2 linked regions of the Homo sapiens genome follow. The protein of the gene in region 1 interacts with the protein of each later gene in a pairwise test. Each region holds a gene or a part of one and is shown on either strand. Other genes may lie near its edges.

Region 1 (7,027 bases):
AAGGTTATTCCTATTGCTTTTAAGATACTGTATGTTGTTCCTGACTGGCATTTTTGCATTTGTTCTTTGCTGACATGAACTGGTTCTTTTCAGCTGCCATGTGAAGACCAGATCATCCTCCTCAAAGGCTGCTGCATGGAGATCATGTCCCTTCGCGCTGCTGTGCGCTATGACCCAGAAAGTGAGACTTTAACCTTGAATGGGGAAATGGCAGTGACACGGGGCCAGCTGAAAAATGGGGGTCTTGGGGTGGTGTCAGACGCCATCTTTGACCTGGGCATGTCTCTGTCTTCTTTCAACCTGGATGACACTGAAGTAGCCCTCCTTCAGGCCGTCCTGCTGATGTCTTCAGGTGAGTACGCCTAGACTCGTTAGTGGGCATCCAAAGAGCTTTTGCTTGTCTAGCGCTAATTCCAATCACTTGAGTTTTCAGTCCCCCTTTAGCTTCAGAAACATAGCTCACTCTTCTTCAGTAAGAAATTGCAGGTTTGCCAGTGGACTGGGAACTTAAAGGGGGGGCGTCAGATGTCTGATGCTTTTTGCAGTGTCCCAGGATAGAAAGAAGCCAAAGGAGCCATCTTAAAGACTCTACGAAGTGATCCGCCTTTGGTGGATACTGTGCAGCCCTCTTCGTAGTCTTTGGCCAAACCTGCCTCCTTCTGGTTTGGGGTATGCCAGATATGGATGTGAGTGACCACACGATTGTGTGTTAAGTTCTGTGTGTGGAAACCGCGGATGCAGGCTAGAATTTGTTCATGGCTTAGCTACAACTGAAGTTTTAGTTATCTGTTGCTAAATAGCACACCGACCCAAAACTTAGTGGCTTAAACATCCAAGATGGCTGGAGTTCAGCTGGGACATCAAACACTGGTTCAGGCCTCCCTCTATGCGGCCTTTCCTCCGGCAGGGTAGACTTCTTACTTGGCTGTTGATTTCCAAGAGAAAGAGTCCCAAGCACACGAAAACAGAAGTTGCAGATCCCATGAGGCCCAGTCTCAAATCACACAGGATCCCTTCATCCACACTGGATTGGCCCAAACAAGTCTGAGTGCCAGCCAGGACTCAACGGTCCCCCTGTAGATGGGAGGATAGCACAGAATGGGCAGCCGTCTGTAAGCCACTACACATCAAACCCTTTCAGGGAAGATAATTTTAAATAGAAGTGGTTTCAGAGTCCTCTGCATTTTCAGGGCACCCAAGTGTAGATGTGCTTTGGCACTTGTCACTCTGCACTGTAACTACCTGCTTCACTTGTCCACGTAAGTCCCTGTGGACTTCTTTTTTTTGAGGACATAGATGTGTCTAACTGTACATCCAGCACCTAGGCCAGTGTGCAATAGAATTCAAGAAATGCTTATTGGATAAATGGCTGAATATGTGGATAAAATATCGGTCACAAGTACATCGAGAATTCTTTGTAGAGTTGCTGCTTCCTGGTTAACTCAGTAGGAAATTTTTTTTTTTTAACCTGAGACACGGTCTTGCTCTGTTGCCCAGGCTGGAGTGCAGTGGTGTAAAGACAGCTCATCGCAGGCTTGACCTGCTGGGCTTAGGAGATTCTCCTGCCTCAGCCTCTCCAAGCACACGCCACCACCCCTGGCTAATTTTTTATTGTTTTGTAGAGAGAAACAGGTCTCACTATGTTGCCCAGTCTGGTCTTGAACTCCTGGGCTCAAGTGATCTTCTCACCTCAGCCTCCTAAAGTGCTGGGATTATAGGCATGAGCCACCACGCCTGGCCTAGAATTCTTTTTTTAAAGCTAATCTAGAAATGTATTTACTATAGGAAATTTAGATATGGCAGACTTTTAAAAAAAGAAAGAAATAATTCTTTTTATTATGGAAAATTTCAAGGGTAAGCAGATAGAATAGCATAATGAACTCCCATGTACACTGTGGCACCCAGACTCCAGACCGGCCTCCTACACTCCCCACCACCTCCTAATGTTCACACCTTGGATAATCTCCTGTCCTTCAGTGTGTGCAGGACCTGTACCTTGCTTCTAGCCAAGAGAATATGGCAAATTTGATGTCACCCCTTGTGATTACATTACATAATCTAAGATTCCCTCTTGCTGGCAGACTTGCTCTAGGGACTCTCCGTGCCAGCTTCATGAAGTAAACCGCCATGTGGGGAAAGTTCCCATGACAGGAGCTATAGATGACCTCTAGGGCTGAGGGTGGTCTCCAGTGACAGCCAGCAAGAAATGGGGCCCACAGTCGTTCAGGAGAATTAGTCTCAAAGAAATAAAATTTATAGCTTATCCAAGGACTCCTTGTGTGACTTTGGGTGACCCCTAGCTTCTCTGGACTTCAGTGACCTTTAAAATGAAGAAATTAAGCTACATACACGGGAATTATATTTCTGGAGGGACTCATGGTAATTTTTTTAGCTGAGATTTTAGAGGTACAAAGACAGTTTTAAATAATGTTGAATCACACCACGAGAAAGCTGTTTCTCTGACGGTTTTCTTCCTGGTTATATCTCCTTCCAAATAAGGCAAGGAGAGAGATTCGGTGTGGTGCTAGTCTGCCTTTAACACCTCTCTTGACACTTACCTTCTTTTTTAACAAAGAGAGAGTGGATCTCAGGAGCAATGTTCAGCCAGAACCTTCAGCTCCAAAGTAACAAAGGCTTTTGCCATGCATCTATTTTTGTGGTTATCTTCTGATTTATGTCAAATGGATTTTTATTACTGAATAATAAGATGTTTCCTCTGTAGTGGGTCAGTTTAACAGATTATTAAGCAAATAATCTAAGTAAGGTAGATAAAAGGAAAAGTAGGTGGAGATGACAAAAACTGTGAATGTGATGCCAAACACTATCAAACACCAAACTGAATGATTCTTCCCAGTTCTCTCATGTTGTGAGGCTGACACTGCCTGACAGCTACAGGACAACTTAATAACTTTTCACAATCCACCCTCCCCAGTGATGTGGACCCTCTTCATTAATACTGCCAGGACCAGAAAAATATTACAAGACATTGTGCATTTGGCAAATGATAGCTGCGTGTCAGGGCCCCAAGTCTCCAGTTCTATCATGGGGCCTGATGTTCTAAGCCCCATGTTTTGTGTGCCATTTCGGTTACACAATATCTTAGACTTTTTCTTCAAAGACTTTTCCAAGAGCCACTACTTCTAAGTTCCTTGGTCCCACAGTGCAAAGAGAAAAAATGAAAATGATCTGAAAGACATTTCTTTAAGAACTTTTGTCTTAAGGAGTTAAAATGGTCTTCAGTCTTTAAAATGTTTCTCTCTTCATAAACCTGTTCAGTGTGATTCAAGCATCATCAAAATGTCAATTTGTACTCGCTATGTCATTTACGTGGCCATCTCGTCTTTATCTCTTTGATGCCACAAAACCCACATTATATTTTTCCCTTTGAAAGAACACATCCAAAGCAATAATATGTTGATCTTCTATTTGGGTCAAAAATTAAAGGATCCTGTGGAAAATTCTTGCACACTCAAAGAAAGAGAGAAGATAGGGGAAAGGGAGAGAGGGAGAACCAGCAAATCTGCAGAGCAGCTTCATCAAATATGAAGGAAAACACAAGATAAAAATGCACGAATTGCCATTTGTGCTAAATAGGGGATTCCAAAAGCCCATATGGTTTGTTAGTTTGTTTAGACTCAGAAGGGTGAATTGAGACATTAGCCCTGATCCTTCCTTTCCAATGAAGCAGAACCCTGTTTCGATTCCTATTGATACAGACACCTCAATAATTGGACCTTTGAAGTGTGAATTCATTTGATCAGAGCCACAAAGAACAAACTGAAGAGAACTTAGCAGGGGCACGTTGGGCCTCCTGGAGCTATTTGAGGAATTCATCCGGGTTTATAGATTATTTTTGTCAGCCAAGTGTCTGCAGCCCAACTATTCCCCAGTTGCCCAGCCTCCTTGTGTCACCCCTTTGTTTGCCACTTTTGGAAACTGACTTGAGCCTCTCCCACATACTATGGGAAGCCCAGTAGTCTGCACAGGACTTGGGAAGATTTGCTGGGCTTTCCAGGGTCCCGGTGTCTTCTCACTCCAGCTCCCACTATAGCTGTTCTCTTCTCTGCATGGGGTGACTCTGGCACAGCTCCCCTCCCCTTTTCATTTCAATTCCAAAATCATGACTAATACAAGGCTGCTACTGGTAGCAATTTTACTAAAGGCATAAGGGAAGGGAAAGGCCAGTTCATTGCAGCCTGGAAGACAACACAAAATTAAACATGGTGTTTCTTGGTCCTCAAGGAAATGTCTTACTATTCCGCGTTCCTCCTTTGGCCTCAGGCCTGCTGCAATGTCCCCAGTCCCTTCATATATCTCCCCCTTCTATGCATGTCCACGCTCATCCTCTCCTCTCTGCCAGGCAGCCAGTGAAAATTCAAAATTGTTCCCCTCATCTTGCAGAATATTTCAGCTATGTCAGGCTTCTCCTTCTGTACCCTAGGAGGGAGGCATCACCTTTCACACTCAAGAAGGTAATTCACACTCAAGCTAAACTGTCTAAACAGAGATATTTATCTGAACAAAGTACTGCCTCTCTTCATATAAATGATGCCACTCCCCTGGTACCTGGTCCCTGGAGCACCAGAGTTCACGCTGCATCCATGCTCATGGCTAAGAGGGAAGACCCTAGATCTGCCCGCCCCCCAATAAAGGCCTGGAATTGGACAAAGCAAGCCTTCCCCCTTCCATCTCTGAATCAATGTCCATCTTCTCTCTTCCCCGCAGATCGCCCGGGGCTTGCCTGTGTTGAGAGAATAGAAAAGTACCAAGATAGTTTCCTGCTGGCCTTTGAACACTATATCAATTACCGAAAACACCACGTGACACACTTTTGGCCAAAACTCCTGATGAAGGTGACAGATCTGCGGATGATAGGAGCCTGCCATGCCAGCCGCTTCCTGCACATGAAGGTGGAATGCCCCACAGAACTCTTCCCCCCTTTGTTCTTGGAAGTGTTCGAGGATTAGACTGACTGGATTCATTCTCATAATTCCTACAGCACTACTGGGTGTCATTTCATTCCATTGCCTAGCTCTTTTTTGTTTGTTTCTTTGTGTTGGGAGGGATTATTTGGGAGGGAAAAGGGAAGTAGTCCTTGGCATAGACATGGATGAAATTGCCCCTTGAATGCGGGTACTTGAAACTATTGCATTTCGTTCTCCGGTCCTGTGATGTGAATGCTCTGAAGGTTTTATGGTTGTGGAGGTGGGGTGGGGGACAATCATTAACTCACCAGCACCAAGCATCACCAGCTCCCACCCGTCCCTGGTCCAAGACTTGAGTCAGCAAAATGGCGCCACAGGACACTAAAGAAGCCTTAAAACCAAGATAATACGACCACCTCCACCCAATCCTGATGTTCGCAGGGCTGAAGTTAACAGAGCACAGACCACCTTTAGTTAGATGTGGCTTTCAGCCTTTTAGGGAAAGACTCGAACAAATTTTCATCTATTCAAGAGCATGCTGTTTGCAGCACTCTTTATGGTCTCCTAGGAGCATAACTTGGAATGTACAGGAATATTTGTGTCCTAAAAAAATCAGCTGCCCTTCCAATATCATTTTTATAACGTTATGGTTTAATTCAAGTTATACAAAGGTGTGACTCAAGGATGTGCAGGTATTGACTGATGGAGGCCAACAAGGAAAATATTTTTTTTCAGTGAGCCCAGAGAAATTAGAAATCTTCACCAATGTCAGTGACTGCATGGTTTCCAAAAATTCACATAGTATTACCTCACAGTAGGAAGGCTTCTTTCCCATTTAGGCTCAGAGAACACTTTTACAGAAATCAAACCTATTTACAGGGTGGCACCCCTTTTCTGTGGCATCTGATCTGTCATCTCCCAAGCTCCTGAAGTTCTTTATCCAGGTTGTATCTTTGCTGAGCTGACAACAGATTTCTCTATGGATCAAATATTCTAATCAAGGAAAGATACGGTGAAACTTCAGTCTTCTTCTGGAGAAATGCTGAGGCGAGATTAGTGCAGCTACATTCTGAGTTGAAGGAAATGCAGTGTTCTGAGGGCCCCTTTGTGTCCTGATGGCTGGAGGACGCTTCCTCCTGGTTAGATCCTCAAGCTCCTTGCCTCATTGACAAATGTCTCCTAGTCCCCTTTTTCCCTCTGACTCTGAGGAACTAAATAGCTTGACTATCTCTAAACAGAGACTGGCCCTGCCACTGACCCTCCTGTCCCTCTCATAGCATACCCTGACAGATACTCAATAGAAAACACCTGCAGACCATGTGCACACTTAACTTTCCTGCCCAACCTGCCTCCCCAACGGCCCATGCTAGAATAGCTTGTGCCCAGAAAACAAACAGTGACACTTCATCTCTTCAGCGTCAGAAAATGGGCATAGAATGTACCCATGCAATTGAATGTATCTCATTCTCCACTGGCATAGTAGATATAAACTATTCCTTTGCCTACCTTTTACTGCCTTATCCTGGAAATATTGGGGAAAATAAGCCATATCAGTGAGATTTACCTAAAAACAAAGGAAGGAAAGTCACTATGGAAACCAAGTAGATGCTTTTTGTAAGTTTGGTGGAGCATAACTGGCCCAGAAGTCTGGGTGCCTGAGTTCTAGTTCGTGCTCTGTCAACTGGTAGATTTGTAATTCTAGGTCTTGGTTTTCTTACCTGGTGAATAAGTCATGATCTCTAAAACCCTTCCTGCCCTTAATATTGTCTGAATTTCAAGGGGAAAAAAAAAATCTGGTTCCTTTAATTATTTTTTTTTAACACTTAAATTCCTAACTTTATTAGACAAGAAGTATGGCCCACTTAACAGTTAAGGAACGTAAATTTGTTATTGGCTCGAAATAATAATTTGACACAATACTAGTCAACCATTTAGAGGCCTTGGAAAAAGAAGAGGAACAGCACTGAAAATTCCAAGTATGATTGGAAATTATCTGGGAGCGGGGAATTAAATATTCAATGCATGAAAGCAATTGTACTGGCTTCTGGGAAAAAGGAAACAAGAACATTGCTATGGAACTTGTTACCCAGAGAAAGGAAGTG
Region 2 (7,311 bases), on another chromosome or scaffold:
AGGAGACACACTTGAATACCTGGTAACAAAAAATGACTCTGACTTCTTTGTATATTTGAGTCCTACCCACACTTTTAAGACCAGCCTAAAGTTAACTTTCCTTATCTGTCCTACTGCTTGTGGGATCTATAACTACACATTCTGGAACACATACACAGTTTTAATGTTATTCAACTGTTTTGTGCTGCTAGTCTTATCACCTCATTGAATTAAACACAAGTTCCAAGAGGGCAAAAACTGTATGTCCCTACAGCATTACAACAGGGCTAGGATTCCAGATGTTTTCATTGACTTTATCTGTACCACTTCTTGCTCTGCAGAACAACTTACTCAGATGTTCATTAAATAACATTTCTTGATTTCTAGGAAAGGTTGATACAGGGGGCTAAGAAGGCAAAAAAGTACTAGGGGGACATTTTAAAAGCTTATTATATTGTAGAGCAGACAATTCTTTAGTCAAGAAAAATATTGTGTAGTATGTAAATGCTTTGGCAGTTACCCCAGCTTTGAAGATCTTGAAGAGCTATGCATGGATTGTCTCCAGTTCTTTTTTGTATCTAAGCAGGCTTTACCTAATGACAGTGGTTCCTCACATAAGTTCCAGTGAACTTCAGGATTCCATGAGGCTGCTCTAAGACTTGACTGATAGATGGATGGCCATGATCGCCGTGTTTAATCTGAGGTTGTTCCTGCCCAGGTACCAACTGAGGTCGTTAGGCTTCAGGTATAAATGGAAAGCCTTCCTATTAATCAAGGAGAGGTTTTCCATCACCGGAGAACACTCTGATGTCCTCAGGAATGACACACAGGTGCCTGTACACAGTTTTGCCCCTAGTCTCAGGACCATTGGCTAGCTTATGCATGGGGGTTCCCTGCCTTCCAGGGAAATAAAACTGTAGCTGTAATTTTACTGTTATTTTAGTTTTTTTTTTTTTTCCTTCCGTCTCCTTGAGAGAGGCAGACAGGGGAAGTAAGAATAATGGTTTCAGCAGCTCTGGCCCTTGAATAAACAGCAAGGAAGGGTTCCATCGTCAGGGTCCATTATACATAAAGTGTGCACACCTAACCTACTGTTTATGTAAACAATGGTTATAATTCCCAGGAAAAAAAGATGGCCTCCAGCTCACTTACTCTGTAACCCGTATCTTGATGATTAGTTCCTTTGTCTCTACTAGAATTTCCAATCCATCATTAACCCTCAGTCAAAATGCTGAAAATGGTGACATCACTTAATATCCTAATTCTAGTAAAACAGGGCTAGAAAATACCTTCATAAAATTAAGTTTAAATAATAAATCTCAAGTATTAGTGCTCTTAATATGCCATCTGTCTTCTTAAACTGGGAGTACCTTTGGATTTCCTTAATTCCTCTTGACCCACCCTTTCGTAAGTGAGTACGAAATGGGTGAGAATAAGACTTTGGCATCTATAGCATCTGATTAAATCTTTACTAGTAGTTATTGGTTGGTGAGATGCAGGACAATTTATGTCTTTAAGTCCCAGCTGAATGGGGGTAACACCGCTCAAGCTGTTTTCAGGATTAAATGAGATAATGCAAGTCAAATTCTGCACAGCGTGAGGGACACAGTATGTGCACAACAAACTCTAAGACTTTTAAACACTTTCAATTATTTTTAAAAAGTGGGGTAGGAGACAAGTTTCTACCCAATTTTTAGTAATAACATATAAGAAGGGGAAAGCTTTTGAATTTTTAAAACTTCAGTATTTTAAAATAATGCAGTCACTCTCACACACAAATTAGTCCATGGTCTTTGATAAAGCAAGACATTAGGTGTAATTTTGCTTCAAATTTAATACCCACACTCGTTGACACTGTTGGAAACACTGAGGCTGGCGGTGGGAGGGTGCAAAGCACTTGCTTAGGAACCAGCTGAGAAATCCTCACTGATTTCTCAGGGAGGAGGAAACCTTTCCCTTCCCTCCCCGGGACAAGTCGAAGCCCCACCCCGAGGGAGATTTGTGTCCCTGAATGTAGTAGTTGGTGTCCGGGGCCTGCGCAGAAGAGGACAGTCCGCAAGGGGCGGAAGACAAGACAAAAATGACTCCAGTTCGCTAGACGCGCAGAGGGGCGGATAGCGCGCGGACCCCGCCTTCCCCAACCGAGTGTGGGTTCCAGTCGCTGGGGAGGACCTGGTGGCCCCCTGACCTTGGACGAGCCATATTGGACGCCCCGGCGCCGTCCCGTCTTCCACGCTGCCAACTCCACCGCTCCCGCCCCGAACTGCGGGTAGGTCCAGGCCGCCAGGCCCCGCCTCGCCGGCCCCAGCCCTGATTGACACTGGAGTTGGTACATACGGGTCTGCAGCGGAGGCGAGCAGGAGGGTGAGCGCTATTTTAAACATGGCTTTCTCTTTCCCTTAGCCTAGGAGCCACCGCAGCGCACCCAGCCCGCGAGTACAGCCGCATGGGAATAATCCCAACATTTGCCTGATTTATTTTCTTCCCTCTCCTTACGCTTGTACTTGTTTTTCTCCTCTCGCTGTTTTCCCTTCACACTAATTCGCAACCTGGCAGTTTGCAAAGAGGAAACTCCCTTTCGGAATGGAAAGCCGCTTTTGCTTCTTGTTGTTGGGGGTGGAAAACATTCCAGCGAGAATGAGTTCAAAAAGAAGGGAAACCGCGTCACTGGAGAGAAAGTAACATTAAGAGATCGATGAGGACGGAGTGGGTAGGGGGGACAGAGAGAGGAACGTCTGCAACAGGCATCTAAAAACAAGCGTGGAGGAGCAAAGATTCCCAATCCCCGGGTTACTACCGCGCGCGTTCTGCGCGAGCCATTGCAATGCCAGCATTTACTGTAAGCAGAATTTGAAGGCTTTTGAAATCTTTTTTTGGTAAGACTTACCTTTCTCTTCGGCATAATGACTATGTCGGTGAAGCAAAAAGTAAAGCAACGGACTGGAACTGCTGGCGCCGCCGCTGGATGCTGCCTCTGCCTCTGCAGCTGCTCACGCGCAGGGCACGACGTAGCCCGGCCTCTTCGACCTGCACCTCCGCGGCTCCCTCTGGGGGCCCTCTGCTCGCCTCCCTGCTGCTCCAATGAGGAGCCCCGCCAGCCGGCCGCGAGGCCCCATTGGCTGAGGCAACGTTCTAAATTCCACGAGGGCACGCCCACCTCCGCGCGCGGTACGCGCTGTTGTAGTTTCCACTTCACCGAAAAAAATCTGCCTGGCGACTGAGCATGCCCAGTTCAACTAGTAGCCTCCAGGCCACACAATCCTGAAGTTTCATTGTTTCGCTGCTCTCTCTTTGAGATTGTAAGAATAAGAACAGTGTGTGTCTTCATAGGAAGGAAAAAGAGTAAGAATGAATACGTAAACTTTATAATGTAAATATATACACAGCAGGTACCTTATTCATTTCCTACCCATAAAGGCTTTTAATGAATGTTACATGGTGGGAATCTGTAAAGCGTGGGAAGGTACTCTGTACTGGAAGAGCGTGGCAACTTCTAAAGGCCTCAGTTTCCCCCCCTAGATATATAGTGACAACAGTCCCTAAAATCACTTAGCTCTAATTTTCTGAAATCTGTGATTATAAATCACTCACTAATTCAGCTAACTTCAAACTAGATGTGAAGACGAATAGGACATGTTTGTTACGGAAATTAGGAAAAGAAAGAACAAGGCAAAAACTGATTATTTTATATTTGAGACATATATTTGAATGACACCCGTCATGTTACACTTTATGCGTAATATTTCTCAAAGTTCTGCAAGGCATAAAATGAGCATTGCAAAAATATTTCTGAATTCATTTTATGAGACCAGATTTACTCTGATACCAAAACCAGTGAAAGACTTCAAAAGAGAGTTACAGACCAATATCACTCATAAACATAGACACAAAAGTCGTGAACAAAATTTTAGTAAATGAAACTCAACAACATTTAAAGGGACAATACATCATGACCTGTGGGGCTTATCTTGGGAATGCAAAGCTGCTTTTTTAATATCTGAGAATCAATCAATGTAATTGGCAGGATTAATAGAATAAAGGGGGAAAAACAATCCTTTCAGCAGATGCAGGAAAAGCGCTAGTGAATGGGTAAGCAAATTGTGATGAGCACATGCAGTGGAATACTATTCAGCAATAAAAAACAATAAAAAATTTTCCTACATGGATGAATATCAAAAACAAAGTGCTGTACGAAAGAAGTCAAATACAAAAGACCACACTGAATGATTGCATTCATATGAAATTATAGAAAAAGCAAAATTGGGCAAAGTTAGTTTCAGAATCATCTTAGCAGGCAAAGCTCACATCATAGGAAAATGTGTTGAAGCCTTACATTACAAATATGGCCAAATCCACTTTGGTAACACAGAGGCTGCAAATATGTATTAAAAATATCATGTATTAAATATGTATTAAAAAAGCAATGAAGTTTAATATTTCACTTTTTCTTTAGTAATTTTCAGAATACATTAATTGATCTAGTACTCTCCAGAGGTGGTTGATTACTTTCTTTTTTGGAACATCTTTATGAACTCATGGATTTTTACATATTTGGTGTGCATCAGTGTATTGCTATCATTATTATTACCTTTTTAATGCTCCTATTACCACATCTTTAGCCAATGCATACCCTTTCAAATTAGTGCTTGTGTCCTTTTGACATGATCTTAATCATTTTTGATAGATTCCCTGTTCTTGGGCATTCAGTGAATGACAATAGTATACTGAAACGAATTAAGATAAAAACCAATTGCTTAGAGCTAGATAAAAATTTACAAGTTAATAATTTTATCATTAAAATAATATTTATAATGAAGATGTCTTTCAAGATATTAATTTGCCAAATACTTGATAGTTAAATAAAGAAAAAGTCAGTGAAAACATTTTTAGTAAGATATGTGTGAGAAGGATACTGAGTAGCACTTGCAATCTGGACTGGATGGCTATTTTTCTTCATGGAGATGGAAAGGTGCCACAACAAAGGTAGTGCTAAGGTGAATATTTCTCCTCTGTGATGAAAAATAACTCACAAAATTGGCTTCTTTGTTAATTTTTTTTCAAAACCAAACACTCAGATCATCAACAGCAAACAAAATTGTGAATGTTTTTACTGCACACAATAAAAATGCTACGATGAAATTGAAGCTTGCTTGTTGGATGAAGAAAGCTGATTGTGAGGACCTCGAGTTCTTGGAATCTTTAGTTCATTTACAAGTTATGAAAATAACAGCTTCGGTTGAAAAACAACAGCATTGCTTATCTTTCCTTTGATGTAGATTGCACCTGGCTGAGCACTACTCTAGGAAATGAAGTGTTCTCCCTTGTACCTTTAGTAGCCTTCAAGATCTGGGAAAGTCAGTGCAAACCTCTACTGGTGGCCCTGGAGGTAAGAAGAGTAGGCAAAGAGAATGATTTAGCAGGTAGCTAGAATTCTAGGTTAAGAGATAAAGACATCTGGGCAGAAATGAGGGTGTCACATAGAAGACAGTGAGGAGGTCAAGCTGGTAAGAAGTACAGACTCATTTGTTTATCAATATATTCCACTGAGCATTTCTACTACTTTGGAATATCAGCCTCTAAGACAGTAAAAGTAGGATGTATATACTATCTTAGCTAAGGTAGACCTGGATAAATTAACAGAGTTACTGACTGAGACAGAAAGAAAAAAAATAGTGAACAAACTTGTTTTCCAATTCCAGCTCCTCTCCTCTTTTGTCCTACTCAAAACTGTTGGAACTGTACACCTACTTCACATTTTTCAATCAGCAGGGCAAAACCATTTATAGTGTCATGACTATCATTAAGGAAAAGAAAGAGACAGAGACATTGACAGACACACACACGCAAACACACACACAGAGAGAGAGAGAGAGAGAGGGAGAAGGGAGAAGGGAAGGCTAAGAAAAGCAAAGAAAGGGCCAAGCATAGAAAATAGCAGAGTATATATGGTAAAGGTAAGTAATGTTTCATAAGATAATTGTTTCTATTTTCCATATGTGCTCATATAAACACATACACAACACAGATATGTATGTGTGTATGTTGGATTGTGACATGAAATATATTTTTAGTATGGTCTTGGTCAAAAAAATTGAATGCCACTGCTAATGAATGTTGTGGATCTTTGACATTCCGAAAAAAAAATGCTTAATATTAAAATTTTTTTTTTAGAGGTAAGATCTCATTCTGTTGCCCAGGCTGGCATGCAGTGGCACAATCATAGCTCACTGCACGTCAGACTGCTGGGCTGAAGAGATCCTCCTGCCTCAGCCTCCTGAGTAGTTATATAGGTGCAAGCCACCACACCAGGCTTGAGAGGAAGTTTTCAAGGGAAAGAATGACTTGCAGATCACCTCCTTCTTGAACTGTCCCTCTTTTCCTCTTTCAGGCAGACACAGGCAGGGTCCCTTAGGCTTTTGCTGTAAGTAATGACAAATTACTGGAGAAGTCAGATCCAGAATGTACATATTGTTGCTTTTGATAGTTGCAACTGTACACCTACTTTGCATTTTTCAGACAGCAGGGCAAAACAAATGATAGTCATGACTATCATTAAGGCAAAGAAAGAGACAGAGACATTGGCAGACAGACACACACACACACACACACACACACAGAGAGAGAGAGAGAGAGAGACAGACAGAGGGAGAAAGGAAGAAAGGGGAAAAGTGAAAATGATACTGTGTTGCTTCTGATAGTTTGTAATTCCAGATTAAGTTACTAATCTTCCATAAATAGGTCAAAAAATACACAGTGAAGAATTCAGGTGTGTAACAAAACAACATCAAAAACAACAAATAAGAGGTGGCAAAAGAATATTTTGTTTGTATTTTCCAGTCAAGTCTCTACTTTGATTGGGTGCTAACTTTTGAAGAGACCAAGGTTAGTTTTTACAAAGCAACAATAAGAGTCCAAGAACTAACGGTCCCAAATCAAATGAGCTGCCTGATATTAGTGCAGATCCCTAGGCCCCAGTCCCAAGGTATTGAATGGCTAGGCTTGGAAATCTGCATTTTCAAACAAGCTTTTCATGTGTTGCTTACACTATAATTCGGGGACTAGAGTATTTAATAGACTAGGCCCTTGCTCTCAACAAATATTTGCTGAATGCCGGTACTTGGATTCTGATGACAGGTATCTATAAAAGCCTGTGGAGTTCTCAACATACTTCCAGAGCAGGAGCGTAATTCTGTGGGTGAAACTCGCCCCACAGTCCTCACCTCATGCTTTTGCTCCATCTCAGTTTTGCTGGGCACAACCTGTTTATTTCACTTTCTTTCTCTTCTGTAGTTGCAAGGAACCTGAAGAGTGATTAAAAACTGCACACATCCA

Evidence for each region.
Region 2: the proteins of THRB (region 1) and HMGN3 interact in a two-hybrid assay, tested with the Homo sapiens proteins (one study listed by BioGRID).

The regions. Positions count from the first base shown.
Region 1 is NC_000003.12:24,120,824-24,127,850, reverse strand, and holds part of THRB (thyroid hormone receptor beta), read left to right. Parts: intron 1-93; coding exon 94-352; intron 353-4,725; coding exon 4,726-4,967; 3' UTR 4,968-7,027.
Region 2 is NC_000006.12:79,231,680-79,238,990, forward strand, and holds the start of HMGN3 (high mobility group nucleosome-binding domain-containing protein 3), read right to left. Parts: upstream 3,004-7,311; 5' UTR 2,882-3,003; coding exon 2,867-2,881; exon of another isoform or gene 2,383-2,866; intron 2,249-2,382; exon of another isoform or gene 1,995-2,248; intron 1-1,994. UniProt on the Homo sapiens protein: Binds to nucleosomes, regulating chromatin structure and consequently, chromatin-dependent processes such as transcription, DNA replication and DNA repair.